Linked DNA regions of Homo sapiens: region 1 is linked to region 2. Evidence: fine-mapped expression QTL. A gene starts in region 2. The other region holds a variant in brackets. All regions are shown on one strand. Distances are between the middles of the regions.

Region 1 (15,515 bases), 39 kb after region 2:
AAAAGTTAGGTCTTTATAACAATTAATGTATGTATTCTGATTCTCTTTATGTTTTAACATATAACTATGTAAGAAACTATTAACTTGACAAATAACCTTTTCTCTTTTCCATCCATAGCGAAAAGGAAGAACAAAATGAACAAAGGTTTAGTTTGGAGAAGTAATAAACTAAATATTTCAAACAAGCATAAAATATTCAGCATGCACTAAGGGCCAAAGACTTCAACAAGACAAAAGGATTTCATGAACACACCCTGCCGCTATCTTTTCTAAGTGTGTTTAACATTTTATCTTACAATCCTCTAAGGAAGTTTGTTGGCAAAAATTCCCAAAGCACAGACGCAAGTACCTTAGAATTAGGAAGTTTGCAGTCACACCATCGTCCATCTATCATATGTCGCTGTGACATTACTTTCACTTGTGTTTCATATTCCGTAAAACGAACAAAGCCAAACCCCTTTGAATGACCAGTCTTAAGATCTTTCTTGACCTAGAAAGGATGATACAAGTTTACTCTAAAAGTGCACATACTCACACACTCCATTCCCAAATCATAGTTCCTTAGAAAACAATTTGAATGGTTTCAACTGGATGCAGTGGCTTAAAACTTAAACCAAGTTAGTCTTAACAGTAAAAACAAGGAGGTTAATATTGAATCCATACTGTGTTAACAACAGAGCAAAACTCACTTATACAACAGAAATGTTTTTGAGTTTTTTAAAAAAGAGAGATGGGGCCAGGCGCGGTGGCTCACACCTGTATTCCCAGTGCTTTGGGATGCTGAGGAGGGTGGATCGCTTGAGCACAGGAGTTCAGGACCAGCCTGGGCAACACAGCAAAACCCTGTCTCTACAAAAAATACAAAGATTAGCCAGGTGTAGTGGCATGCACCTGTAGTCCCAGCTACTTGGGAGGCTGAGGCACAAGAATAGCTTGAACCCAGGAGGTGGAGGTTGCAGCGAGCCTACATTGCACCACTGCACTCTAGAGCCTGACTGACAGAGCCAGACCCTGTCTCCAAAAAGAAAAGAAAAAAAGAGAGGCCAGGCACAGTAGCTCACGCCTGTAATCCCAGCACTTTGGGAGGCGGAGGCGGGCAGATCATGAGGTCAGGAGATCGAGACCATCCTGCCTAACACGGTGAAACCCCATCTCTACTAAAAATACAAAAAATTAGCCAGGCGTGGTGGCAGGCACCTGTAGTCCCAGCTACTTGGGAGGCTGAGGCAGGAGAATGGCATGAACCCGGGAAGCGGAGCTTGCAGTGAGCCGAGATCATGCCACTGCACTCCAGCCTGGGTGACAGAGCAAGACTCCGTCTCAAAAAAAAAAGAAAAAAGAGAAACTGAGTCTGGATATGTTCGCCAAGGTGGCCTTGAACTCCTGGCCTCAAGCAACCCTCCCACCTCAGCCTCCCAAAATGCTGGGATTACAGGCATGAGCCACCACAACAGGATTTTAACAGAATGTCTTAGAATGAATTCAAAGATAAACTAAATTTAATGTTTACAAATTTTAAATGAAATGGAAAAACCTCCCATTAGTTTAATATATAAAGAAAAGCTATTGTCACCTACTTCCCTTAAGCCTTCATGCAACAGTAGGATTTTACAATATCAAAGGCAATAACATAGGGTACAACATATATGTATAAATATAACAAATATTGGAAGTATCATCTGTGTAACAGAAAGGACAGTGCCATTAAAATAACAAGAATGTGGCCGGGCGCGGTGGCTCACACCTGTAATCCCAGCACTTTGGGAGGCCAAGGCAGGTGGATCACTTGAGGTCAGGAGTTCAAGAACAGCCTGGCCAACGGGTGAAACCCTGTCTCTACTAAAAATACAAAATTAGCCAGGCATGATGGCGGGCACCTGTAATCCCAGATACAGGAGGCCGAGACAGGAGAAATCACTTAAACCCGGGAGGTGGAGGTTGCAGTGAGCCAAGATCGTGCCACTGCACTCCAGCCTGGGCAGCAAAGTGAGACTTGGTCTCCAAAAAAAAAAAAAAAAAAGAAAGGTAACAAGATTGTGGCTGGGCATGGTGGCTCAGCACATTGGGGTCGAGGCAGGAGGACAGTATGGGCCCAGGAGTTTGACGCCAGAACCTAGGGAACATAGTGATACCCCATCTCTATTTATACCAATAAATAAATGCTAGATACTCATTCACTGGTAAAGAAAAACTGTTTGATGCAATCGAAGTTTACCTGCACCATAAGAACTTCTCCAAAGGTACTAAAATACTCTTTCAGGTCCTGTTCGGTTGTTTTCCATGGGAGACCCAACACTATTAAATCGGATGTTTTCTGGACTGCTCTTTTCACTTTCACTGCTGATGAAGCATCTGTCTCATCCATTTTTCTTTTGTTATCTAAATAAAACGAGCAGAAACCTTTTAGAAATCTTCACTTAGCACTTCTTTAAAAACACTACCTCCTACATCTAGAAATGAGAAGCAAAAAGAAGACTCTAAGAAGAATAAGACACTGAAAACTTGGCAAGAAGTGATGTTTGCTCTAGAGGACAGAATAAAGGCTTAAGTTTAGTGTCTGAGGTGCTTTTCTGGTGCAAATTCAGTGATTTCCAAGTTTGTTTTTTGTAGCATTTCCGGATTACAATCTCTCCCTCTCAAAAGGTTTATCAAAACAAAAATAATTCTACTTCACTTTGACTTTAAATATCAGCAACTTGTATATCCTGATGAAGATTTAACTTTTATCTTTCCTAAACATTCAACAACAAATACACAACTTTTGTAATAAAACAGAAAACCAGGTACAGTGGTGTGTATGCCTGTAAGTTCCAGCAACTCAGGAGGCTGAGGAGGAAGGACGACTTGAGTCCAGGAGTTTGAGGCTGCAGTGTGCCTATGAATAGCCACTGCAATATGCCTGGGCAACAGAGCGAGAGCCTCCATCTCTAATTTCAAAAAAGAAAAAGAAACCAAAAGTTTGGCTTACTTAAAAAAACATAACTGGCTGGGCGCGGTGGCTCACACTTGTAATCCCAGCACTTTGGGAGTCTGAGGCAGGTGGATCACAAGGTCAGGAGTTCAAGACCAGCCTGGCCAAGATGGTGAAACGCCGTCTATACTAAAAATAAAGAAAAAATTAGCCGGGCGTGGTGGCAGGTGCCTGTAATCCCAGCTACTTGGGAGGCTGAGGCAGGAGAATCGCTTGAACCCAAGAGGCGGAGGTTGCAGTGAGCCAAGATCGTGCCACTGCACTCCAGCCTGGGCGACAAGGGCGAGACTTCGTCTAAAAAATAAATAAACAAATAAAAATAAATAAATAAAAATACAAAAATTAGCCAGGCGTGGTGGCAGGCACCTGTAATCCCAGCTACTCATGAGGCTGAGGCAGAGAATTGCTTGAACCTGGGAGGCGGAGGTTGCAGTGAGCCAAGATCGTGCCACTGCACTCCAGCCTGGGCGACAGAGTGAGACTGTCTCAAAAAACAAACAAACAAACAACAACAAAAAAACCCCCCAAATAACCTCAACCTTAGGTTATTTAGAAGAGAAGGGGAGATAATTTTTTTTTTTTGAGACGGAGTCTCATTCTGTCACCTAGGCTGGAGTGCAGTGGCGCAATCTCCCCTCTCTGCAACCTCTGCCTCCCGGGTTCAAGTGATTCTCCTGCCTCAGCCTCCCGAGTAGCTGGGATTACAGATGTGAGCCACCATGTCCAGCCTGGGGAGATAAATTAAATGACATTTAAAAAATTTTTTTTGAGACGGTGTCTCGCTCTGCTGCCAGGCCAGAGAGCAGTGGCACGATCTCAGCTTACTGCAATCTCCACCTCCCGGTTCAAGCAATTCTCCTGCCTCAGCCTCCCAAATAACTGAGACTACAGGCGCGAACCACCACGCCTGGCTAATTTTTGAATTTTTAGTAGAGACAGGGTTTCACCATGTTGGCTAGGGTGGTCTTGAACTTCGGACCTCAGGTGATCTGCTTGCCTCAGCCTCCCAAAGTGCTGGGATTACAGGTGTGAGCCATTGCACCGAGCCTGACATTTTAAATTTGAGTAAATATTAATCTATACCCACTGGCTGAAGAAACAGCATACTAAAAACCCCGAGTTTACATTATCAATTTTTTTTTTTTTTGAGACGAAGTCTTGCTCTGTCACAGGTTGGAGTGTAGCGGCGCGACCTCAGCTTAAAGTAATCTCCGCCTCCCAGGTTCAAGCGATTCTCCTGCCTCAGCCTCCAGACTAGCTGGGACTACAGGCCCCCGCCACCACGCCAATTTTTGTTTTCGTTTTTTTTTGTTTTGAGACGGAGTTTCGCTCTTGTTGCCCAGGCTGGAGTGCAATGGCACAATCTCTGCTCACTGCAACCTCTGCCTCCCGGTTCAAGCGATTCTCCTGCGTCTGCCTCCTGAGTAGCTAGTATTACAGGCACCCACCACCACATCCAGAGATTTTGTGTTTTTGATAGAGATGGGGTTTCATCATGTTGGCCAGGCTCATCTCAAACTCCTGATCTCAGGTGATCCACCTGCCTCGGCCTCCCAAAGTGCTGGGATTACAGGCATGAGTCACCGTGCCTAGCCCTAAAGTTTTCCTAGACATGTAAAAGGGTGTCTTGCATACTGACCAAATTTGATGGACTTTGTTGCAATACCAAGTTATAATAAAAGGAACACACAGACAGATCGACTACTAACAGCACACTACTTCAAAATGCTGAAATTAGGTATTTCCTTGGCACACTTCTTAAACTTCATGCTTCCTTTTCTTAGATTTAGAACATCATTGATAAGAGGCAGAGAGAAGGATAAGACCAGAACCTCGAAATTGTAATTGGAACTGCACTAATTCAAGATTTGGCTACTCCAACTGTTTGCTCATTTAAGGGAAAAAATGAACTCAGATTTGCTGAATGAATGATGTAACACCAAAAGGACAATGATCAAATCCAAACACTGAAGCACTTCAGAAGAATCTATTTACAACAATGATTTATGTACAAAACATTCTTAGTGATTCCTGAAATTTATCATCAACTTGGCAAAGTTTATTCAGATATTTTTTAAATACATTGTTTTCTCTTTTAAAATGATCTACAATCCCCAGTTTCCATAAATTTAGACTCGTGGTCTTCCAAACTTGTCTAACACTGAAGTTCAAGGAAATACTTAAGTTTCAGGAGACATTCTGCCACCAAAAGAGGCTAAGATCCATGGATGAGACACACACCTGAACACACTTCAGCATGATTACAAAAACCAAATGGTAACAAACCTTTTGGATAGTTGACAACATACACCAGATTTCCCCAGCCAGCATCTGGGGCATGCAGAATTCCTTCTACCAGCCGGACACCTCTCATACACTGAGACACTGGATTCCTGTAGCGAAGCCCACACGCCCCTGGAAACTGGGCTGTAACCGTGGAGAGCAGCACCGTCCCATCGTCTTCCGATGGTATTTCAATGGGCTCATCGTTCTCATCTTCGGTTACCCGAATATATTCAGACATCTTTTACTTTTCCTAAAGAGAAAAGAGATATGAATGAACAACATTCATGTCAGAATAACTGTTTCCTTATAATGATAATACCCAAACCATGTCAGAGTTCTGACTTCCAGAAAAATGCTTGTCTGGATTCGTATATGCATTGGTTATCCCTGAAAAATGACGAGGTGAAGGTAAGGGTAGTGATTTCCTATCAAAATGTGATGCCTCGCCAGTTCATTCATTCAAAAAACTTTCCCTGAAGGCTTATGATGCGTCAGGTACTGAAACTGTAACTGTGAGTCCAACGTGGCTTGCTGGTTACAAGCTAGGGTATGCAAGGGAACAATAAACAGTAGCTATTTTATGACAATCGGGTTAGTCGTTAAGTAATCCTGAAGGCAGAGGAGGAGCCTAACTGGCTGAGGCATGGGCGTGATAGGTCCCAGTCGATTTTCCTAAGCAAGCGATCCATCAGCTGAACCTGAAGACTGAATATGGGCAGTGAACCAGGTGTAAAGAACAGGAGAAAAGTTTCCCTCTGTTCCTCATTTTGGGGCTTCCGGGGGCTCTGCGAGCCCGAGCCCCAAGGCCCGCGGCGACAGGTCCTGGCGGTGCCGGCCGTCGCCTCCCAGAAGCCCGCGCGTGCCAGCCGAGGGAGGAGTTTCTCGGCGCGGCCCGGGGTGGGGCGCAGGAGCACCAGGCCCAAGCTGGCAGCGTCCCTCGAAGTACAAAGTACCGAAGGCTCCGGCACTGTCCGGGTCCGGGGCCAACCTCCGCCTCAGGCTACGCGGCACCGCGGGCCCGGCCCCCCGTTTCGGCGCCACCGGCCTCCCCGTGCCAGGACCTAACGACGCTCCCGCGCGAGCCCGCTCGGGCAGGACTAGGCCCGGTCTCACGGCTGACTTCCCGGGGCAGGGTCCGAAGCCGCTGCGTCTGCCTCGGGCCGCCCCAATGCAGAAGCCGAGGCACCTACGGCGTCCTCAGTGAGAAGGCTCCGCGACTCACCCGCTAGGCCGCTGCTGGGAAGCCCGACAGGGACACCGAAGCAGCGACGGACCCAAGCGCAGCCCAGCCACCGCTTCGCTCCCACAAAATGGCGCTAGGGCCGCCTCCTCCCCCCGCCCACCGGCGTCCTCTCCCACCGGTTGCCTGTCCAGAGGTGGAAGGCACCGACGAGAGCCACGATGACCCTCTCCCCAGGGACTCGGGCTGCCTCCTGGAAATTCAAGCCTACAGAGAAGCTCTGAAAGCTAAAATAAAACCAGGACCTAGGCCTGAAAAGCTGAAGATTGAAAAAAGTGTGGCTGTATAGGAGCTGACCTCCCCCCACGTAACGTAGCAGATGGTTTCGGCCGACCAACCGCCGGCCCAGGTCTCGGTCGGAGCTCGCGCACTTTCAAAGCGCGCGAGAGTAGCACAGAGTCTCGGCCAGCGAGGGCGGGGCGGGGCGGGGCCTGGAGGGGGCGGGGCTCGGGATCCCGGGCCGAGTCCACCTGGGAGGCAGGATAAGGCCTGGACCCCTTTTCTGAAAGGCAACCTAGTGCGTCTTCTCCTCCCTCCGCCAGCCCACCTCCAAACCTGGAAACAATAACTTTGTTCTAAATAATAGCAATGATAAGGCTACTTTGTGCCAGGTACTTTCTGAGTATTCACATATTTAATAGCCCAAACAGTTTTGTGTAGCAGGAGCTATTGATATTCATTCTGCGGGTGAGGAAACTGAGGCACAGAGAGATCAAGTGTCTTGCTTAAAGTGACGCAAGGATTAGCCGGGCGGTAGTGGCGCGCGCCTGTAGTCCCATCTACTCGGGAGCCTGAAGCAGGAGAATTGCTTGAACGCGGTAGGCGGAGGTTGCGGTGAGCCGAGATCGCGCCACTTCACTCCAGTCTAGGCGACAGAGTGAGACCCTGTCCTCCAGCCCCTCCCCCCAAAAAAATGTCACCCAAGGAATAAATGGTAGACCTGGGATTTGAATCTCGAGGCACAAAATGCTAACTTGTTCTGGCTCCAGCCCTTTAATAATAATAATAATACAGTACTTCATCTATTTTAAGGCACACTTTTTGTTTCACTTTTTTTTTTTTTTTTTTTGAGACGGAGTCTCGCTCTTGTCCCCCAGGCTGGAGTGCAGTGGCGCAATCTGCAGCTCACTGCCACTTCCAACTCCTAGGTTCAAGGGATAGCTGGGATTATAGGCGTGCAAAGACACCATGCCCGGCTAATTTTTGTATTTTTAGTAGAGACAGGGTTTGGCCATGTTGGCCAGGCTGATCTCGAACTCATGGCCTCAAGTGATCCGCCTGCCTCAGCTCCCCAAAGTGCTGGGATTACAGGCACGAGCCACCTTTCTTTTCTATCTTTTCTTTCCTTTCTTTCCTTTCCTTCCCTTCCTTTCCTCCCTTCCCTCCCTTTCCCCCCCTTCCCTCCCTTCCCACCTTCCTTCCTCCCTACCTCTCTCTCTTTCTCTCTCTCTCTCTTTCTTTTCTCTTCCTTTTTTTCAGACTCCCTCTGTTGCCTAAGGTGGAGTGCAGTGGCACAATCTCAGCTCACTGCAACCTCCGCCTCCCCGGTTCAAGCAATTCTCCTGCCTCAGCCTCCTGAGTAGTTGGGTCTACAGGCATGCACCACCATGCCCGGCTAATTTTTGTATTTTTAACCCCTGTTGGCCAGGCTGGTCTCAAACTCCTGACCTCAGGTGATCCGCCCACCTCGGCCTCCCAAAGTGCCACCACGCCCGGCCTTTGTTTCACATTTCTTTTTTTTTTCTTTTTTCTTTTTTTTGAGATGGAGTCTCGCTCTTTTGCCCAGGCTGGACTGCAGTGGCGCTATCTCGGCTCACTGCACGCTCCGCCTCCCGGGTTCACTCTATTCTCCTGCCTCAGCCT[A/C]CTGAGTAGCTGGGACCACAGGCGCCCGCCACCACGCCCGGCTAATTTTTTTGTGTTTTTAATAGAGACGGGGTTTCACCGTGTTAGCCAGGATGGTCTCAATCTCCTGACCTCGTGATCCGCCCGCCTCGGCCTCCCAAAGTGCTGGGATTACAGGCGTGAGCCACCGCGACCGGCCAATGTTTCACATTGCTGAAGTCAGTATGTGATTTCAGTTCCAGTTCCAGTTGATGATGATGTGTCATAGTTTAACTGGCAACTATTTATGTTTCTTTGTATATACATGTATCACACTCAATGAAATACAGTTACAAGTGTTTACACAAAATACTTTATTTATTTATTTAAGATGGGGTCTCACTCTGTCACCCAGGCTAGAGTGCAGTGCAGTGACCTCGGCTCACTGCAACCTCTAACTCCAGGGGTCAAACGATCCTCTCACCTTAGCCTCCGGAGTAGCTTGGACCACAGGTGCACACCACCACACTCAGCCAATTTTTTATATTTTTTGTAGAGACAGGGTCTTGACATGTTACCCAAGCTGGCCTCCAACTCCTGAGCTCAAGCGATCCATCTGCCTCAGCCTCCCAAAGTGCTGGGATTACAGGCGTGAGCCACCATACCCAGCAGAGAAGTCGGTTTTATCACTCCCATTTTACAGAAGAAAAACCTGAGGCTCAGAGACCATATGACAGGCCTGAGGTCATACAGTTGCTCAAGGATGTCACCTAGCCCATAAATTGCTGTCCCAGGTTGGTCAGACCCTAAACCTCTGCACTATGTCCACCACACTGGCCACTTTCTGTCACAAGACTGAGACCGAGGTATTTAGTGCGGGTAGTGCTGTGGAGTCCTGGACACTAGCTCCAAGTGGGCAGAGCTGGGTATGCAGAAGTTCCTAGAGACAGGTCACACAGGAACATGACCCCAAAGGCTGGCCCTTCTCCTAAGAAGTTTTCAGGCTAGTTGGGAGGACAAGCAAACACTGTCTCAAAGAAGGTAAGTAACTCAGGAAGATAATTATAAGGCCAGAGGGAGACTGGACCACAGATCTTCCTGCTCCTATCTCAGTTGTCTCTGGGATTCAGCTTTACAGCACTGATTGTCAAAAGTTGTTTGAAACACAACATTTTTTTTTTTCAAGACAGAGTCTTGCTCTGTCGCCCAGGCTGGAGTGCAGTGGCACAATCTTAGCTCACTGCAACCTCTGCCTCCCGGGTTCAAGCTATTTTCCTGCCTCAGCCTCCCAAGTAGCTAGGACTGCAGGCGTGTACCACCCCACCTGGCTAATTTTTGTATTTTTCGTAGAGACGAGGTTTCACCATGTTGGCCAGGCTAGTCTCCAACTCCTGACCTCAAGCAATCCTCCCGCCTCAGCCTCCCAAAGTACTGGGATTACAGGCATGAGCCACTGTGCCTGGCCCAGGCCCTGGTTTTCAACTGGGTCACTTGGGGACTTACCTTCTCCCCTTCCATCAACCCCCTTGAATTCTCCCAGCTCATCAGCTCCATGAGGCAAACAGGACACAGCTCCACAACATTCCTGAAAACTGAAAGAAGCCTGGGCGCGGTGGCTCACGCCTGTAATCCCAGCACTTTGGGAGGCCGAGGTGGGTGGATCACCAGAGGTCAGGAGTTCAAGGCCAACATTGTGAAACCCCGTCTCTACTAAAAATACAAAAAATTAGCAGGGCATTGTGGCAGGCACCTGCAATCGCAGCTACTCCAGAGGCTGAGACAGGAGAATCGCTTGAACCCGGGAGGCAGAGGTTGCAGTGAGCCAAGATCACACCATTGCACTCCAGCCTGGGCAACAAGAGTGAAACTCTGTCTCAAAAGAAAAAAAAAAAAAAGACAAAACTGAAAGAAATACTAGGGCAATAATGATACATAGATTTATTTATTTATTTATTTATTTTTTGAGACGGAGTCTTGCTCTGTCACCCAGGCTGGAGTGCAGTGGCCCAATCTCGGCTCACTGCAAGCTCCACCTCCCGGGTTCACGCCATTCTCCTGCCTCAGCCTCCCAAGTAGCTGGGACTACAGGTGCCCGCCACCACGCCCGGCTAATTTTTTGTATTTTTAGTAGAGACGGGGTTTCACCGTGTCTCAGTCTCCTGAGCTCGTGATCTGCCCGCCTCCGCCTCCCAAAGTGCTGGGATTACAGGCGTGAGCCACTGTGCCCGGCCCTATTTATTTATTTATTTATTTATTTATTTATTTATTTATGTAGGTGTGCACCACCACATCTGGCTAATTAAAAAAACTTTTTTGTAAAGACAGGGTCTCATTATGTTGCCTAGGCTGGTTATGAATTCCTTGCCTCAAGTGATCCTTTCACCTTGGCATTCCCACATGCTAGAATTACAGGCACATACCACCACCCAGCCAATAAAGATATTTAAATAAAAGTAACTTTAGGGCCGGGAGTGGTGGCTCACACCTGTAATCCCAGCACTTTGGGAGGCCGAGGCGGGCGGATCATGTGAGGTCGGGTTCAGCCTGACCAACATGGAGAAACCCTGTCTCTACTAAAAATACAAAATTAGCCGGGCGTGGTGGCGCATGCCTCTAATCTCAGCTACTTGGGAGGCTGAAGCAGGAGAATCACTTGAAACCAGGAGGCGGAGGTTGCAGTGAACCAAGACTGAGACATTGTACCCCAGCCTGGGCAACAAGAGCGAAACTCCATCTCAAAAAAAAAAAAGTAGCTTTAGGCTAGGCACAGTAGCTCACACCTGTAATCCCAGCACTTTGGGAAGCCGAGGCAGACAGATCACTTGAGCCCAGGAGTTCGAGACCAGCCTGGGCAACATGGTGAAACCCCATCTCTACAAAAAATGCAAAATTTAGCCGGACCTGGAGATGTACACCTGTGGTTACAGGTACTGGAGAGGCTGTGGTGGGAGGATCACTTGAGCCCAGGTGGCAGAGGTTGCAGTGAGCCAAGCTGTTGCACTCCAGCCTGGGCGACAAAGCAAGTAATAAAGTAATAAAGTAATAAAAATCTTTATTGTATCAAGATTAATTTCCTCTTCATCTCCATGTTTTTAGCTCCTGCCAAAATTAGAAGCTGCCTTCCCAAATAGTCTAGGTCTAATTTAGATTTTAAAAACAAATTTTTTACATTGAAATAATTTAAAATTTATGATAGAGTTCCAAGAATAGTGCAAAGCACTGCTGTGTTCCCTTCATCCAGATTCATCAACTGATTACATTATGTCACATTTGGTCTATCACTCACTCTCTCTAGACATGTAAATTAATAACATGGCTGGGCGCAGTGGCTCACGCCTGTAATCCCGCACTTTGGGAGACCAAGGTGGGCAAATCACCTCAGGTCTAGGAGTTCAAGATCAGCCTGGCCAACATGGTGAAACCCCATCTCTACTAAAAATACAAAAATTATCTGGGCATGGTGGCTCATGCCTGTATTCCCAGCTACTTGGGAGGCTGAAGTGGGAGAATCACTTGAACCCAGGAGGCAAAGGTTGCAATGAGCTGAGATGACGCCACTGCACTCCAGCCGGGGCAACAAAACGAGACTCCATCTCAAAAAAAAAATTAATTAATAACATATATGTTCTTACTTATCCATTGAGATTAATGACAGACTGCGTGCCCCTTTGCCTCTAAAAAGTTTGTCTTTCCTAAGGACAAAGACATTCTCTTACACAATCACAATACTGTTATCAAATTCGGGATTTTAACATTAATGTAACACTCTTTTCTAATATACAACCATTTTAAAATTTGGCCCTTCCCGCCCCCGCAGAAAAAGAAACAAAAACAGGTTGCTGTGGTGGCTCACACCTGTAATCCCAGCACTTTAGAAGGCTGAGGTGGGTGGGCAGATCCCTTGAGCCCAGGAGTTAGAGGCCTAGCCTGGGCAACATGGTGAAACCCCATCTCTACAAAAAAAAAAAAAAAAAAATAAGCCGGGCATGGTGGTTCACACCTGTAGTCCCAGCTCCTTGGGTGGTTGAGGTGGGAGAATCACCTGAGCCTGGGGAGGTCGAGGCTGCAGTGAGCAGTGATCACATCACTGCACTCCAGCCTGGGTGACAAGAGTGAGACCCTGTCTCAAGAAAAAAAAAAAAAAGAAAGAAACAAAAACAAAACATGTCCTTTGAATAATTTTTCTTTTTTTTTTTGAGATGGAGTCTCGCTCTGTCGCCCAGGCTGGAGGGCAGTGGCGCGATCTTGGCTCACTGCAAGCTCCGCCTCTCGGGTTCACGCCAATCTCCTGCCTCAGCCTCCTGAGTAGCTGGGACTACAGGCGCCTGCCACCACGCCCGGCTAATTTTTTTGTTTTATTTTTAGTAGAGACAGGGTTTCATCGTGTTAGCCAGGATGGTCTTCATCTCCTGACCTTGTGATCAGCCCGCCTCGGCCTCCCAAAGTGCCTTTGAGTAATTTTTCTCTCTGATCTAGGATCCAATCCAGGAACATTGTATTCCATCATTGTGGCTCTTTCAACTCCTTCAATCTAGAACACTTTCTCAGCCTTTCTTTGTCTTTCATGCCATTGGCACTTTTGAAGAGTTCAGGCTTGCTTTGTTTTTGGAATGTCCCTCAATTTGGGGTTGCCTGATGTTTCCTCATGATTTGATTCAGATTATAAGTGTTTGGCCGGGCGCAGTGGCTCACACCTGTAATCCCAGCACTTTGAGAGGCCGAGGCAGGCAGATCACAGGGTCAGGAGATCGAGACCATCCTGGCTAACACAGTGAAACCCCGTCTCTACTAAAAATACAAAAATTAGCTGGGCACGTGCAGTGGTAGGCGACTGTAATCCCAGCTACTCGGGAGCTGAGGCAGGAGAATCACTTGAACCCGCAAGTTAGAGGTTGCAGTGGGCCGAGATCGTGCCATTGCACTCCAGTCTGGGTGACAGAGTGAGACTCCGTTTCAAAAAAAAAAAAAAGAAAGAAAAGAAAGTACATTTGCAGGGCGCTGTGGCTCATGCCTGTAATCCCAGCACTTTGAGAGGCCGAGGTGGGCGGATTGCAGTTGGAGACCAGCCTGGACAACATAACGAGACCTGTCTCTACAAAAATTAGCCAGGTGTGGTGGCATGCACCTGTAGTTCCAGCTACTCAGGAGGCTGTGGTGCCAAGAGGTAGAGGTTGTAGTGAGCCAAGACTGCACTATTGCACTCCAGCCTGGGCAACAGAGTGAGACCCCATCTCCCCCAATTACCCACCAAAAAGAAAGTAAATTGCAGACATCACAGCATTTCACTCCTAAATTCTTCATCCTGCTTCTCCTAAGAACAAGAATATTGTCCTTCATAACCACAATGATAATCATAAGAGAAAATGAATAATTATTTCCTGCTATCATCTAATACCTGGTCCACATTCAAATTTCTACAATTGTTCCCCTCAAATGTCTTTTATAGCTGTTTTCTTTTTCTTTTCTTTCTTTCTTTCCTTTTCTTTTTTTTTTTTTTTTTGAAACAGGTCTCACTCTGTCACCAAGGCTGGAGTGCAGTGACACAATCCTGGCTCACTGCAGCCTCGACCTCCGGGACTCAGATGATCCTCCCACCTCAGTCTCCTGGATAGCTGGGGCTACAGGTGCATCCCACCACACCAGGATATTTTTTTTGTATTTTTTATAGAGATGAGGTTTCACCATGTTGCCCAGGCTGGTCTCAAACTCCTGGGGTCAAGTGATCTGCCCGCCTCGGCCTCCAAAAGTGCTGGGATTACAGGTGTGAGTCCCTGCGCCCAGCCTGTATTTTCTTAAAATAGGATCCAATTAAGCTTCATGCATTACATTTGCTTAGTATGTCCATTAATCTTTTTAAAATCTAGAATAATCTCCCTATACAAGATACTGACTTTTGGAAGAGCTCTGGTCAGGTAGTTTGTAGAATGTCGCACCTTCTGAATTCATCTGGTTGCTTCCCTGTTGTATTACTCAGCACACTCCTCTATTCCCTATTTTTCCTGCATACTGGAAGTTAGATCTAAAGACACGATCACATCCAGGTTAAACACAATGGCCACAACACTTCTTGGGCAAAGCCTTGAATATCCCAATGCTCCTTATCAAGAGCCACATAATGTCTGGCTGTTTCACTTTTAGTGATGCTAAATTTGATCTCTCAATTAAGACTGTGACCACTGGCCGGGTGCGGTGGCTCACGCCTGTAATCCCAGCACTTTGGGAGGCCGAGGTGGGTGGATCATGAGGTCAGGAGATCGAGACCATCCTGGTTAACACGGTGAAACCCTGTCTCTACTAAAAATACAAAAAATTAGCCAGGTGTGGTGGTGGGCGCCTGTAATCCCAGCTACTCGGGAGGCTGAGGCAGGAGAATGGCGTGAACCCGGGAGGTGGAGCTTGCAGTGAGCCGAGATCACGTCACTGCACTCCAGCCTGGGCGACAGAACGAGACTCCGTCTCAAAAAAAAAAAAAAAAAAAAGACTGTGACCACTAGATCTCTCCACGGAAAAGATGTATTTCCCCCCTTTGCAAAATTCCAGTAATCTCTAGATGATACATTGGCACAGGGCAAACATCCCATTTCACTACATCCTTTCACCTAATGGTTTAGCATCCACTGATGATCCTTGCCTTACTCTGTTATTTTATTGGGGGTTACAAAATGGAAAGTTTTATTTGCTTTTATTTTTTATTTTATTTATTTACTTATTTATTTTTGAGACGGGGTCTTGCTCTGTTGCCCAGGCTAGAGTGCAGTGGCACGATCTTGGCTCACTGCAACCTCTGCCTCCCAGGTTCAAGTGATTCTCCTGCCTCAGCCTCCCAAGTAGCTGGGACTACAGGCACCTGCCACTGCACCCAGCTAATTTTTGTATTTTTAGTAGAGATGGGGTTTCACCATCTTGGCCAGGCTGGTCTCAAACTCCTGACCTCGTGATCTACCCGCCTTGGCCTCTCAAAGTGCTGGGATTACAGGGGTGAGCCATCACGCCCAGTCTGTTTTTATTTTTATTTTTTTAGGGATAGGGTCTCACTCTGTCGCTCACCTTGGAGTGCAGTGGTGCAATCATGGCTTACCACAGCCTTGGCCTCCTGGGCTGAAGCGATCCTCCTGCCTCATCTTCCAGAGTAGCTGGGGCTACAAGTGCACCACCATGTCTGGCTAATTTTTTTTATTTTTAAAATTTTTTGTAGAG
Region 2 (14,607 bases):
CCGGGCATGGTAGTGCATGTCTGTAAACCCAGCTACTAGGGAGGCTGAGGTGGAAGAATTACTTGAGCCCGGGAGGCGGAAGTTGCAATGAACCGAGATCTCGCCACTGCACTCCAGCCTGGGTGACAGAGGAAGAATCTGTCTCAAAAAAAACAAACAACAAAAATAGAGACATCAAAGGATGGTCTGATGAAGGCAAGACAGGGGCTGGGGGACAGGAGAAGGCAGGGTTCCTGTGAATGCATGGGGGGTGGTCAGGGCAGGCCTCCAGGAGGTGGCGTTTGAGCTGAGACCTCAGTGAAAAGCAGGTGGCCGTGTGCAGGGAGGGGGAGGTTCTCCTGGCCAGAGGTTGGAATTGCATCCTTCTAAAATAGGAAACAGGCCAAGCGCTGGTGGCTCACACCTGTAATCTCAGCACTCTGGGAGGCTGAGGCGGGCAGATCACAAGGTCTCTACTAAAAATAAAAAAAAAAAAAAAAAAATGGCCCAGCTTGGTGGCGTGCGCCTGTAATCCCAACTACTCGGGAGGCTGAGGCAGGAGGGTGCAGTGAGCTGAGATCGTGCCACTGCACTCCAGCCTGGGCAGCAGAGCAAGACTGTCTCGAAAAATAAATAAAATAGGAAGCGACAAGAAAGCCACTCAGATGGGGCGATTTGGTCTGGAAGGAGGGGGTAGGGATGGGAGAGAGGAGCCCAAGCCGCCGGCAGGAGCCAGCTCTCAAGGAGAAATGGAGGTACCAGAGTTCTCCCCGCTTTACACATTATAAACTGAGGTTCCCAAAAGGGGCCAGGTGTGGTGGCTCACAGCTGTAATCCTAGCACTTTTGGAGGCCGAGGTGGGAGGATCGAGGAGTTCGAGGCAACATAGGGAGACTCTATCTCTACCAAAAATTTAAAAAGTAGCCAAGTATGATTGAACACACTTGTCCCAGCTACTCAGGAGGCTGATGGGGGAGGATCACCTGAGCCCCGGAGGCCGAGGGTGTAGTGAGCCATGATCGATGCCACTGCACTCCAGCCTGGGCCACAAAGTGAGACCCTGTCTCAAAAAAAAATAATAAAAAAAAGGGAAGGGGTTGGCCAAGGCGGCTTGCCTGTGAGGCACTTGGAGAGTCCCACGTGGCTGTGCTGGCTCCAGGTCCCCCAGCCCCTTGGCCCAGACTGGTCCCTCCCATCCCCTCCAGGATGTCATCCAAGTCTCCAAGAAGTTCCTGCCAGGCATGGCCATTGGCTACTCTAGCTCGAAGCTGACCCTACATGTGGGTGACGGTTTTGAGTTCATGAAACAGAATCAGGATGCCTTCGACGTGATCATCACTGACTCCTCAGACCCCATGGGTAAGCAGTGGATGGGCCCCAGGGTTTTCTGGCAGCTGCAGGTCTGGAGGTCAGCCTCCCCCAGGCCTTCAGAGTAAAGGATAGAGCGGCCTCCCACCCCCCGAACTAGAGCTGTACTTTTCCCTTCTCATTTGTTACCTGCCCTCTGAAACATGGCTCAGGACAGTAGGCAGGAGCCAGGCGACTGCCCAGATTCACAAGCTGGTGACCAAGGAGAGTGGGGATCTGGCATTGGGACACTGAGGACCCTGTGTCCTCTTCAGCCTCCCCTCTGCTCTGAAGTGGTCAGCACTGGAGTGGGGGCAGGTTCTAGTCTTGAACGAAGGCCTAGGTTAGAGGTTCCTCTGCTGTGGTGCCAATGAGACTCCCCCAAGAATGGGATTCAGGTGTGGATCCCCCACAGACCTGGGTTCAGATCCTGGCTCTGGCCACCTGGTAGCTGTGTGGGTGACAGTGGCCCTGGAGGTCACAGCCAGACTGTTCAGTGTGTCTCCCTCTGTCTTCCCCAGGCCCCGCCGAAAGTCTCTTCAAGGAGTCCTATTACCAGCTCATGAAGACAGCCCTCAAGGAAGATGGTGTCCTCTGCTGCCAGGGTGAGCCACAGGCCTGGAGCACTGGGGCGGGGCGGGGTGGGGCAGGGCAGGCCCTGCCGGATGCTGATGCTTAGGGGCCCCCAGGCGAGTGCCAGTGGCTGCACCTGGACCTCATCAAGGAGATGCGGCAGTTCTGCCAGTCCCTGTTCCCCGTGGTGGCCTATGCCTACTGCACCATCCCCACCTACCCCAGCGGCCAGATCGGCTTCATGCTGTGCAGCAAGAACCCGGTGAGATGGGGGTGTCTGGGGGTGGGGGTTGGGGGGAAGGTGGGCATAAATAGAGATCCCTGCCCCTGCCGGGCGCGGTGGCTCACACCTGTAATCCCAGCACTTTGGGAGGCTGAGGCGGGCAGATCACAAGGTCAGGAGATCGAGACCATCTTGGCTAACACGGTGAAACCCCGTCTCTACTAAAAATACAAAAAAATTAGCCAGGCATGGCAGCGCGCGCCTGTAGTCCCAGCTGCTGGGGAGGCTGAGGCAGGAGAATGGCGTGAACCCGGGAGGCGGAGCTTGCAGTGAGCCGAGATTGCGCCACTACATTCCAGCCTGGGTAACAGAGGAAGATTCCGACTCAAAAAAAAAAAAAAACCCTCCCCAGGCCAGGTGCGGTGTCTCATGCCTGTAATTCCAGCATTTTGGGAGACCAAGGTGGGCGGATCACTTGAGGTCAGGAGTACAAGACCAGCCTGACCAACATGGAGAAACCCCATCACTACTCAAAATACAAAAAAAAAAAAAATTAGCCGGGCGTGGTGGCGCGTACCTGAGGCTGAGGCAGGAGAATCACTTGAACCTGGGAGACAGAGGTTGCAGTGAGCTGAGATGACGCCACTGCACTCCAGCGTGGCAACAGTGAGACTCCGTCTCAAAAAAAAAAAAAAAAAAGTGCCCCCCCTGATGTGCCCCTGGCCCGGTCCCCAGAGCACGAACTTCCAGGAGCCGGTGCAGCCGCTGACACAGCAGCAGGTGGCGCAGATGCAGCTGAAGTACTACAACTCCGACGTGCACCGCGCCGCCTTTGTGCTGCCCGAGTTTGCCCGCAAGGTGGGTGGCCTGCGGGGCTGGGTGGTGGGACCCAGGGACCCAGAGCGCCCTCCTGACTGGCCTCATGTCCCTCCAGGCCCTGAATGATGTGAGCTGAGCCCAGGCGCCACCACTGATGCCACCCAGGACCTCGGACCTTGGAGCCTGCGGGGTGCCTCGGCCCCTCCAGCCCCGGGCCGGACCTCCTGCTGGCTCTCGCCCACCAACCAAGTGTTACAAGCCCCAGAATGCTGCCCGGCCTGCCCTGCTGGGCGGACTGTCTGTGTGTCTGTCTCTCTGGCGTTCCACCTCCAAGCCTATACCAGCTGTGTACAGCGCCATCTCTCTGCCTTCTGTTGCCCCTCACTCACCAAACACGTGTATTTATAGCAAAGATTGGAGTCCTGTGTCTCCTGACCTTGGCTGGGCCCAGGCAGGGCCACATTCACCATTGGGTGCCTCTGGGGTGAGGGTCTGCAGAGGCCTTGCTGGCTGACCCCCAAGTGTCTGCTGCAGGGCTGAGGCTGCAGGCGGGCCATCGTGGATAGCCTGGGGCACAGAGGGTCACCGCAGTCGTCACGTGGGACCCAGAGCTGTCCTGGGAAGCTGACTTAGCTGTCCTTTTACCAAGCCCTTCACAAGGCCACTGGTGACAGCCCCCCAGGGCAGTGGGGTGGGTGAGATCAGGGTGGGGCTGCCCGGGAGCATTCTCAGAAAAATTGGGGACACTCACAGGTGTAAGTCAGGTCCCATCCAGGTACTCCAGGGCAAATACAGGAAGGGGTGGCGGGGCTGGTTACCTTCGGCCTTTTTAAGCACATCAGGAGCTTAACACTGGCCCAGTGACTGTGCCCTGACTCCACCCGGCATTCAGACTTGGGTTCAAATTCCCACCATGCCCCGCCCCCTATGTGGACAAATTGAGAAAGCAAGTGTGGGCACCCCACCAGGGACTGCGAGGACCAGGGCTGTCCCCTCTCCAAGGTGCTGAACTCCCGCCTTCCAGGACCCAACGGTGGTGGGAGGACAGGAAAGGAACCCTCTTTGCATGGGCCTGAGTTGCCAACCCCTTTCCCCACCCTGGGCAGGGGCTGGGCTAGCGGACGCATCAGGGAGGGAGGCCCCACTCCCAGCCGAGGCAGCCACCTTGGAGCCCTAACTCACCCGGGTATGTTTTCTGGGACACCAGAGTAAGGGGGATTCAGTTTCGCCATCAACTCTGGCTTCAGGCCAGTCATAGCCCTCCAGTCTCCACCTGCCCCCCACTCCCCACCCCTGTGAATTCACCAGACTGAGCACCTTCAGACCTTTGGCCCATCAGCAGATCTGACCTCAGGCTAACTTCTCCAGGCCACCCTGACCTTTCAAATCAGTCTGGGGAGCTGGCGTCTGCCCCCGGGCCTTCATAGTCTCAGGGAAGGCCCGAGAGGAGCAGCTGGCGTTCAGGTGGGTTGGCAGGGGCTATTTCTGGAGCCTGACAGGCCAGGCTGCAGCTGGGTGGGCCAGGCACTTTCATTTAACCTTCACAACCACCTGCCCGCCAGGCATTGTTCCTGCTGCACAGAGGCAAGGCGATGTGCCTAAGGACACACAGCCAATCAGCAGCCACCGTCCGACGCCACTCCACCCTGCTCACCCCAGGGTCTCCTGCATCTCAGGCCAGGCACTCTGGAGGTCCCGGCATGGATGGTCTCTCTGACATCTACTCCCTGGCCAAGATCCAGGCAGGGAATGCTGCCCCCTTAGAGGGACGATCCCGTGACCCCCTAAGTGTGAGGGCCTTTCCCCAAGGGCTCTGGAATCGGTCCAGATCTCAATCTCAACTCTGCCTCCCTCAGCTCTGTGACCTGCAGCCACGCAGGCCCTCTGCCGGTTACCCCGATGTCAGAGGGGGAGCACACCGTCCCTGTTAGGAAGCTTTGGTGAGAAGCACGTGCGACGCAGCCCTCAACCAGTGCCGGCCCGAGAGAAGGGAGGGTGGACCAGGTTGTGGAAACAGCCGGGGCCATCTGGGAGGCAGGAGATCTGGGAAGCAGCTGCAGGAAGATGAAGTTGCCGGCAGCGTAGATCCTGCGCCTCCCCAGCCTATAGTCTATACACACACCTGGCCGCCGCGAAGAGGCATGCACCAGGGATGGGGGCAAGCCTGAGCCCCACGACTGGGTGGGTGCGATGCAGCCCAGGATGATCTGCTGAAACAGAAACAGCCTTGATGAGGACACAACCTGGGTCCCCCAGCGTCCCAGAAATCTTTGGGCCACAAACAGGCCCAGTGTGGCATGGGGAATAACATCAATCCTATCTAGACTTTTCAAAATTTGATTTATGATAATTAGCCAGGCCCCTGGCTTAAGGATTCATGGGTCCGTGCGGCTTGTCAGAAGAAAAATCACAGTCCTCCTCCCGCAGCCCCTTTCCCTCTTGGAGCTGATTATTTGGGGTTTATCTTCTGTAGTAGAAGAAGAAATCGATTTGGTGTTTGTCCCCAGTTCCTGTCACGGAGCCGCTAACACCTTTGGAAATTCCTGATCGGTAGGCGTGTCTTGTCGTTCATTATATGCTCTGTTAGAGAACTCCCGAGTTTATGCTAATGCAGTGGTCTAGGGTAGAGCCCCGGGGGAGCCTCAGGGTGGGGCTGGTAAGTAAGACCTAAAGACTGAAGGGTTGGGACTTTCACCCCACCCAATGACTGCCAGGAAAGGATCAGGAGGGCTCTGGAGATGAAGCTGTACAAATTCATGAACAATGAGCGCAGCCCCGGGTGGTGGCTCATGCCTGTAATCCCAGCACATTGGGAGGCCGAGGTGCGCAGATCACTTGAGGCCAGGAGTGTTGGGAGGGCAACATGGCAAAACCTCGTCTCTACTAAAAACACAAGCATTATCCTGGTGTGGTGGCGCACGTCTATAACCCCAGCTACTCGGAAGGCTGAGGCAGGGGAATCACTTAAACCCAGGAAGCGGAAGTTGTGAAACTGCCTTTGCCAAATTATGACTGAGACAGTGAAAGAGACCTAACTTAGCCAACTCCATCTTGCTTCTAGCCTCCAAGCTGTCCTTCTTCATTCCTGGGCGTAGGCTGAACTAACGTTGGGAGAAATTTAGTTTATAGTTTAAACAAAGACGGTCACAGCCCTTTCTCAAAGCAGATGTTCTTGCCTGGGGACTAGACTGTCTTTGTAGGATTAACATTAGCCACAAGATTAGAAATTATGGTTTAGAGTCATGCAGCTGGAGGCTACGAGATTCCCACCCTCCCTAAACTGCTCCTAAGATCAGTGCTTGAGATATTTTGCAGATCCTGCCTTGATGGATCAGCCGGCACCACCCAGATGGATAAACGGGCTCATCTGATCTTGTGACCCCCACCCAGGACTCAGTGCAAGAAAACAGCTCTGACTCCGACTGCCTGTGATTTCATCTCTGACCAGTCAGCACTCCTGGCTCACTGGCTTCCCCCTACCCACCAGGTTATCCTTAAAAACTCTACTCCCCGAATGTTCGGGGAGACTGATTTGAGTAATAGTAAAATTCTGGTCTCCCGCACAGCCAGCTCTGCGTGAATTACTCTTTCTCTATTGCAATTCCCCTGTCTTGATGAATCAGCTCTGTCTAGACAGCTGGCAAGGTGAACCCCTTGGGCGGTTACAGTTACAGTGAGCCGAGATCGCGCCACTGCGCTCCAGCCTGGGTGACAGAGCAAGACTCTGTCTTAAAAAAAAAAAGGAAAAAAAAGAAAAAAACCAGTTAAAGAAAATAAAAGGAAAAAGCAAAAGAAAAAATAAAAGAATAATTCTGGACAGAAATAGAGTTATAATTTAGCATTGATCAGGCTGCACTCTGGCCCGCCTCCATGTAACTGACAGTCAGGTAGCACCGCGCCTGACCAGGCTTTTGTTTAAGAATTGCTTGAGTTAGGGCACTGTGGCTCATGCCTGTAATCCCAGCACTTTGGGAGGCCGAGGCGGGCGGATCACCTGAGGTCAGGAGTTCAAGACCAGCCTGACCAACATGGTGAAACGTGGTCTCTGCTAAAAGTACAAACATTAGCCGGGTGTGGTGGCGGGCACCTGTAAGCCCAGCTACTGGGGAGGCTGAGGCAAGAGAATTGCTTGAACTTGGGAGGCGGAGTAGCTGGGCTTACAGGCACGTCCATGCTGGTCTCAAACCCCTGACCTCAAGTGATCCACCCGCCTCGGGCTCCCAAAGTGCTGGGATTAAGGCTGGGCCCAGTGTCAAGAGTTCAAGACCAGCCTGACCAAATGGAGAAACCCCATCTCTACTAAAAATACAAAATTAGCCGGGTGTGGTGGTGCATGCCTGTAATCCCAGCTACTAGGGAGGCTGAGGCAGGAGAATCACTGGAACCCAGGAGGCGGAGGTTGCAGTGAGCCGAGATCGCGCTATTGCACTCCAGCCTGGGCAACGAGCAAAACTCCATCTCAAAAAAAAAAAAAAAAAACAAACCACCAAAGTGCTGGGATTCCAGGTGTGAGCCACCGCATCTGGCCTTATGATAACATTTTATCTCCTACACAGCTTCTTGTTTTCCCTGGAGGTTCTTTTTTTGTTTGTTTCTCATTTACTTAGTTTTCAATAAATTTATCACTAATTTGGCCCCAAATTTTTCACCAATTCTCTAATGCTCCTTGGACTCAACAGGTGTTCTGTCATCGTCCCCTTTCTGGAGAAGCTGTCCAGAGCCTTCTCACCGCCCCCAATGGAGTCCCTTAGTGAATGGCATCTCTTGGACCTTATGTCTTCCTATTGAAACCACCCTTGCAAAATTATGACATAACCGACCCCATCCTGCTCCTGACCTCCAAGCTGACCCTGCTCATTCCTGGGTGTAGGCCCAGCTGACCGGCGGAGGAATTTAGAGTTTAACTTGAAACAAGAATAATAATAGTTCTCCCTAAAACTACTCTCTTCCCTGTTCGGGGGCTGAACCACCACCTTGGTAAGATTTTTTTTTTTGAGACGGAGTCTTGCTCTGTCACCCAGGCTGGAGTGCAGTGGCGCGAGCTTGGCTCACTGCAAGCTCCGCCTCCCGGGTTCACGCCATTCTCCTGCCTCAGCCTCCCAAGTAGCTGGGACTACAGGTGCCCACCACCACACCCGGCTAATTTTGTATTTTTAGTAGAGACGGGCTTTCACCGTGTTAGCCAGGATGGTCTCAATCTCCTGACCTCGTGATCCACCCACCTCAGCCTCCCAAAGTGCAGGGATTACAGGTGTGAGCCACCGTGCCCGGCCTCCACCTTGGCAAGATTAATGAGCAGTCACAAGACAGGTGTAGTTTCTTTCTTTCTTTTTCTTTTCTTTTTTTTTTTAAGATGGAGTCTCGGCTGGACATGGTGGCTCACGCCTGTAATCCCAGCACTTTAGGAGGCTGAGGCTGGCGGATCACAAGGTCAGGAGTTCGAGACCAGCCTGGCCAACATGGTGAAACCCTGTCTCTACTAAAAATACAAAAATTAGCCTGGCGTGTTGACACATGCCTCTAATCCTAGCTACCTGGGAGGCTGAGGCAGCAGAATCGCTTGAATCCAGGAGGTGGATGCTGCAATGAGCTGAGATCGTACCACTGCCCTCCAGCCTGGGACAGAGCGAGACTCCGTCTATTTTTTTTTTTTTTTTTTTTTTTTTTTGAGATGGAGTCTCGCTGTGTCCCAGGCTGGAGTGCAGTAGCACAATCTTGGCTCATTGCAGCCTCCAGGTTCAAGCGATTCTCCTGCCTCAGCCTTCCAGGTAGCTGGGATTACAGGCACGCAACACCATGCCCAGCTAAGTTTTGTATTTTTAGTAGAGATGAGGTTTAACTCCAAAATAATTCTTTTTCCTGATCTTTTGCATGTGATTTACTATTTGATTTTTCTCTTTCTCTTTGTTTGTAAAACATAATTATTCTCTCCAGTGTTTTTAAATATGTGTAAAGCTGTATTAATATTTTTATCTCCTTTTCTGGGCACTTGGGGCACACTTTCGATCAGTATCACGTTCTTCAGTTCTGGGAAATTTTCTTGCATTATTATTATTGCTATGTATGTATTTTTTGAGACAAAATCTTACTCTGTCACCCAGGCTGGAGTTCAATGGCATGAACATGGCTCACTGCAACCTTGAGACCTCCTGGGCTCAAGCGATTGTCCCATCTCAGCCTGCCAAGTAGCTGGGACTAAAGGTGCATGCCACCATGCCTGGCTAATTTAAAAAAATTTTTTTTTTTTTTAGAGACAAGGTCTTGCTATGTTGCCCAAGCTGGTCTTGAACTCCCGGTCTCAGGCGACCCACCTGCCTCAGCCTCCCAGCCTCCTGGGATTATGGGCAGGAGTCACTACACCCAGCCAGAGTCCCGGTCTCTAAAAGAAAATAGGCCAGGCATGGTGGCTCACGCCTGTAATCCCAGCACTTTGGGAGGCTGAGGCGGGTGGATCACCTGTGGTTGGGAGTTCGAGACCAGCCTGACCAACATGGAGAAACTCCGTCTCTACTAAAAATACAAAACTAGCCGGACGTGGTGGCGCATGCCTGTAATCCCAGCTACTCGGGAGGCTGAGGCAGGAGAATTGCTCGAACCCCGGAGGCAGAGGTTTGGTGGCTCACACCTGTAATCCCAGCACTTTGCGAGGCTGAGGCAGGTGCATCGCTTTGGCTCAGGAGTTCAAGACCAGCCTGGGCAACACAGGGAGACCCCCATCTCTACAAAAAACAAAAACAAATATAAAGGGGATAAAAAAAAAAAAAAGACAAGACATGAATCCATGAGGACAGAGTGTGGAAGAGGAAGCAGCAGCCTCAAAGTTCTGGAAGCTGGAAGAACAGATAAACAGGTGTGAAATAACTGCCTGGAAAGCAACTTCTTTTTTTTTTTTTTTTTTTTTGAGGTGGAGTCTCACTCTGTCGTCCAGGCTGGAGTGCAGTGGTGCGATCTCGGATCACTGCAACCTCCGCCTCCCAGGCTCAAGCAATTCTCCTGCCTCAGCCTCCCGAGTAGCTGGGATTATAAGTGCGCGCTGCCACACCTGGATGATTTTTGTATTTTTAGTAGAGATGGGATTTCACCATGTTGGTCAGGCTGGTCTCAAACTCCCAACCTCGTGATCCACCCACCTTGGCCTCCCAAAGTGCTGGGATTACAGGTATAAGCCACCGAGCCCAGCCAAAAGCGACTTCTAAGCCTGCAAGGGAATCGGGAATTGGTGGCACCAGGTCCTTCTGACAGGGTTTAAGAAATTAGCCAGCCTGAGGCTGGGCACGGTGGCTCACACCTGTAATCCCAGCACTTTGGGAGGCTAAGGCAGGTGGATCACCTGAGGGCAGGAGTTCAAGACCAGCCTGACCAACATGGAGAAACCCCATCCCTACCAAAAATAAAAAATTAGCCAGGTGTGGTGGTGCTCGCCTGTAATCCCAGCTACTTGGGAGGCTGAGGTGGGAGGATTGCTTGAACACAGGAAGTAGAGGCTGCAGTGAGCTATGATTGCAGCACTGCACTGAAGCCGGGGCAACAGAACAAGATCCAAAAAAAAGGGAGGGGTGAGGGGCAGAGCCAGGATTTGTTTCCAGGCTGTTGTTACCTAGGTCCGACTCCTGGCTCCCAGAGCAGCCTGTCCTGCCTGCCTGGAACTCTGAGCAGGCTGGAGTCATGGAGTCGATTCCCAGAATCCCAGAGTCAGGGAGGCTGGGGGCAGGGGCAGGTCACTGGACAAACAGATCAAAGGTGAGACCAGCGTAGGGCTGCAGACCAGGCCAGGCCAGCTGGACGGGCACACCATGAGGTAGGTGGGCGCCCACAGCCTCCCTGCAGGGTGTGGGGTGGGAGCACAGGCCTGGGCCCTCACCGCCCCTGCCCTGCCCATAGGCTGCTGACCCTCCTGGGCCTTCTGTGTGGCTCGGTGGCCACCCCCTTGGGCCCGAAGTGGCCTGAACCTGTGTTCGGGCGCCTGGCATCCCCCGGCTTTCCAGGGGAGTATGCCAATGACCAGGAGCGGCGCTGGACCCTGACTGCACCCCCCGGCTACCGCCTGCGCCTCTACTTCACCCACTTCGACCTGGAGCTCTCCCACCTCTGCGAGTACGACTTCGTCAAGGTGCCGTCAGGACGGGAGGGCTGGGGTTTCTCAGGGTCGGGGGGTCCCCAAGGAGTAGCCAGGGTTCAGGGACACCTGGGAGCAGGGGCCAGGCTTGGCCAGGAGGGAGATCAGGCCTGGGTCTTGCCTTCACTCCCTGTGACACCTGACCCCACAGCTGAGCTCGGGGGCCAAGGTGCTGGCCACGCTGTGCGGGCAGGAGAGCACAGACACGGAGCGGGCCCCTGGCAAGGACACTTTCTACTCGCTGGGCTCCAGCCTGGACATTACCTTCCGCTCCGACTACTCCAACGAGAAGCCGTTCACGGGGTTCGAGGCCTTCTATGCAGCCGAGGGTGAGCCAAGAGGGGTCCTGCAACATCTCAGTCTGCGCAGCTGGCTGTGGGGGTAACTCTGTCTTAGGCCAGGCAGCCCTGCCTTCAGTTTCCCCACCTTTCCCAGGGCAGGGGAGAGGCCTCTGGCCTGACATCATCCACAATGCAAAGACCAAAACAGCCGTGACCTCCATTCACATGGGCTGAGTGCCAACTCTGAGCCAGGGATCTGAGGACAGCATCGCCTCAAGTGACGCAGGGACTGGCCGGGCGCAGCAGCTCACGCCTGTAATTCCAGCACTTTGGGAGGCCGAGGCTGGCTGATCATTTGAGGTCAGGAGTTCAAGGCCAGCCAGGGCAACACGGTGAAACTCTATCTCCACTAAAACTACAAAAATTAGCTGGGCGTGGTGGTGCGCACCTGGAATCCCAGCTACTAGGGAGGCTGAGGCAGGAGAATTGCTTGAACCTGCGAGGTGGAGGCTGCAGTGAACAGAGATTGCACCACTACACTCCAGCCTGGGCGACAGAGCTAGACTCCGTCTCAAAAAACAAAAAACAAAAACGACGCAGGGGCCGAGGGCCCCATTTACAGCTGACAAAGTGGGGCCCTGCCAGCGGGAGCGCTGCCAGGATGTTTGATTTCAGATCCCAGTCCCTGCAGAGACCAACTGTGTGACCTCTGGCAAGTGGCTCAATTTCTCTGCTCCTTAGGAAGCTGCTGCAAGGGTTCAGCGCTGTAGCCCCGCCCCCTGGGTTTGATTGACTCCCCTCATTAGCTGGGTGACCTCGGGCCGGACACTGAAACTCCCACTGGTTTAACAGAGGTGATGTTTGCATCTTTCTCCCAGCGCTGCTGGGAGCTTGCAGCGACCCTAGGCCTGTAAGGTGATTGGCCCGGCACCAGTCCCGCACCCTAGACAGGACGAGGCCTCCTCTGAGGTCCACTCTGAGGTCATGGATCTCCTGGGAGGAGTCCAGGCTGGATCCCGCCTCTTTCCCTCCTGACGGCCTGCCTGGCCCTGCCTCTCCCCCAGACATTGACGAGTGCCAGGTGGCCCCGGGAGAGGCGCCCACCTGCGACCACCACTGCCACAACCACCTGGGCGGTTTCTACTGCTCCTGCCGCGCAGGCTACGTCCTGCACCGTAACAAGCGCACCTGCTCAGGTGAGGGAGGCTGCCTGGGCCCCAACGCACCCTCTCCTGGGATACCCGGGGCTCCTCAGGGCCATTGCTGCTCTGCCCAGGGGTGCGGAGGGCCTGGGCCCTGGACACTGGGTGCTTCTAGGCCCTGCTGCCTCCAGCTCCCCTTCTCAGCCCTGCTTCCCCTCTCAGCAGCCAGGCTCATCAGTGCCACCCTGCCCTAGCGACTGAGACTAATTCTAACATCCCACTGTGTACCTGGTTCCACCTGGGCTCTGGGAACCCCTCATGTAGCCACGGGAGAGTCGGGGGTATCTAGCCCTCGTTCCTTGGGACCTGGTTCCCTGGTTCCCTGCACTGTGGGACGGGCCAGTGCTCTGGGGCGTGGGCAGCCCCACCTGCTGGCGCTGACCCTGCCTCCCCCGACTCGGTTTCTCCCTCTCGGTGTCTCTCCTTGCCTCTCTGATCTCTCTTCCAGAGCAGAGCCTCTAGCCTCCCCTGGAGCTCCGGCCTGCCCAGCAGGTCAGAAGCCAGAGCCAGCCTGCTGGCCTCAGCTCCGGGTTGGGCTGAGATGGCTGTGCCCCAACTCCCATTCACCCACCATGGACCCAATAATAAACCTGGCCCCACCCCACCTGCTGCCACGTGTCTCTGGGGTGGGAGGGTCGGGAGGCGGCGGGGTGCGCTCCTCTCTGCCTACCCTCCTCACAGCCTCATGAACCCCAGGTCTGTGGGAGCCTCCTCCATGGGGCCACAGGCTCCTTGGCCTCACCCCCCGTTTTGAAGATGGGGCACTGAGGCCCGGAGAGGGGCAAGGCCTCGCTCGAGTCCAGGTCCCCAGAGGCTGAGCCCAGAGTAATCTTGAACCACCCCCATTCAGGGTCTGGCCTGGAGGAGCCTGACCCACAGAGGAGACACCCTGGGAGATATTCATTGAGGGGTAATCTGGTCCCCCGCAAATCCAGGGGTGATTCCCACTGCCCCATAGGGCACAGCCACGTGGAAGAAGGCAGGCAATGTTGGGGCTCCTCACTTCCTAGAGGCCTCACAACTCAAATGCCCCCCACTGCAGCTGGGGGTGGGGTGGTGGTATGGGATGGGGACCAAGCCTTCCTTGAGGGATAGAGCCCAGCCCAACACCCCGCCCGTGGCAGCAGCATCAGCTGTTCCAGCGAGGAAGGAGAGCACCAGACTCAGTCATGATCACTGTTGCCTTGAACTTCCAGGAGCAGCCCCCAGGGCAGGGGTCAGACCTGGGGAAAGGGGGTGATGAGAGACCCTTCTTCCGGATGGTTCCTCCAGGAACCCAGGGGGCTGGCTGGTCTTGGCTGGGTTCGGGTAGGAGACCCCTGATGAATAAACTTGGGAATCACTGGGGTGGCTGTAAGGGAATTTAGGGGAGCTCCGAAGGGGCCCTTAGGCTCGAGGAGATGCTCCTCTCTTTTCCCGAATTCCCAGGGACCAAGGAGAGTGTCCCTTCTTCCTCCTTCCTGTGTGTCCATCCACCCCCGCCCCCCGCCCCGGCAGAGCCTGGTGGAACTCAGTGCTCTAGCCCCTACCCTGGGGTTGCGACTCTGGCTCAGGACACCACCACGCTCCCTGGGGGTGTGAGTGAGGGCCTGTGCGCTCCATCCCGAGTGCTGCCTGTTTCAGCTAAAGCCTCAAAGCAAGAGAAACCCCCTCTCTAAGCGGCCCCTCAGCCATCGGGTGGGTCGTTTGGTTTCTGGGTAGGCCTCAGGGGCTGGCCACCTGCAGGGCCCAGCCCAACCCAGGGATGCAGATGTCCCAGCCACATCCCTGTCCCAGTTTCCTGCTCCCCAAGGCATCCACCCTGCTGTTGGTGCGAGGGCTGATAGAGGGCACGCCAAGTCACTCCCCTGCCTTCCCTCCTTCCAGCCCTGTGCTCCGGCCAGGTCTTCACCCAGAGGTCTGGGGAGCTCAGCAGCCCTGAATACCCACGGCCGTATCCCAAACTCTCCAGTTGCACTTACAGCATCAGCCTGGAGGAGGGGTTCAGTGTCATTCTGGACTTTGTGGAGTCCTTCGATGTGGAGACACACCCTGAAACCCTGTGTCCCTACGACTTTCTCAAGGTCT

Direction of the effects. Alleles are on the strand shown, and positions count from the first base shown. SD is a standard deviation of normalised expression in the study named.
For the expression in tibial nerve of the gene that starts at base 10,703 in region 2, allele A in region 1 goes with a higher level than allele C (small effect, 0.17 SD a copy in GTEx).

Evidence for each region. PIP is the estimated chance that this variant, and not a neighbour inherited with it, causes the effect. A credible set is the group of variants that fine-mapping cannot tell apart.
Region 1: its variant is the best candidate, but not a certain one, in a credible set for the expression of MASP2 in tibial nerve (GTEx, PIP 0.72).

What each region holds. Positions count from the first base shown.
Region 1 is chr1:11,003,708-11,019,222 of GRCh38, reverse strand. It overlaps TARDBP (TAR DNA binding protein), which reads right to left and starts at 6,569. Exons shown (of 6, transcript NM_007375.4): 1 at 6,480-6,569; 2 at 5,258-5,507; 3 at 2,216-2,379; 4 at 350-490. The coding sequence starts at 5,495. RefSeq lists silencers at 5,251-5,497, 6,907-7,136 and enhancers at 5,859-6,826, 6,537-6,866. The variant A/C (reference allele first, on the strand shown) is at 8,361.
Region 2 is chr1:11,043,335-11,057,941 of GRCh38, reverse strand. It overlaps MASP2 (MBL associated serine protease 2), which reads left to right and starts at 10,703. Exons shown (of 11, transcript NM_006610.4): 1 at 10,703-10,739; 2 at 10,823-11,051; 3 at 11,209-11,386; 4 at 12,403-12,534; 5 at 14,407-14,603. The coding sequence starts at 10,735. SRM (spermidine synthase) reads left to right here. Exons shown (of 8, transcript NM_003132.3): 4 at 1,185-1,338; 5 at 1,848-1,931; 6 at 2,016-2,161; 7 at 2,858-2,980; 8 at 3,057-3,353. The coding sequence ends at 3,077. RefSeq lists enhancers at 4,528-4,777, 5,108-5,187, 5,795-5,874, 11,366-12,198.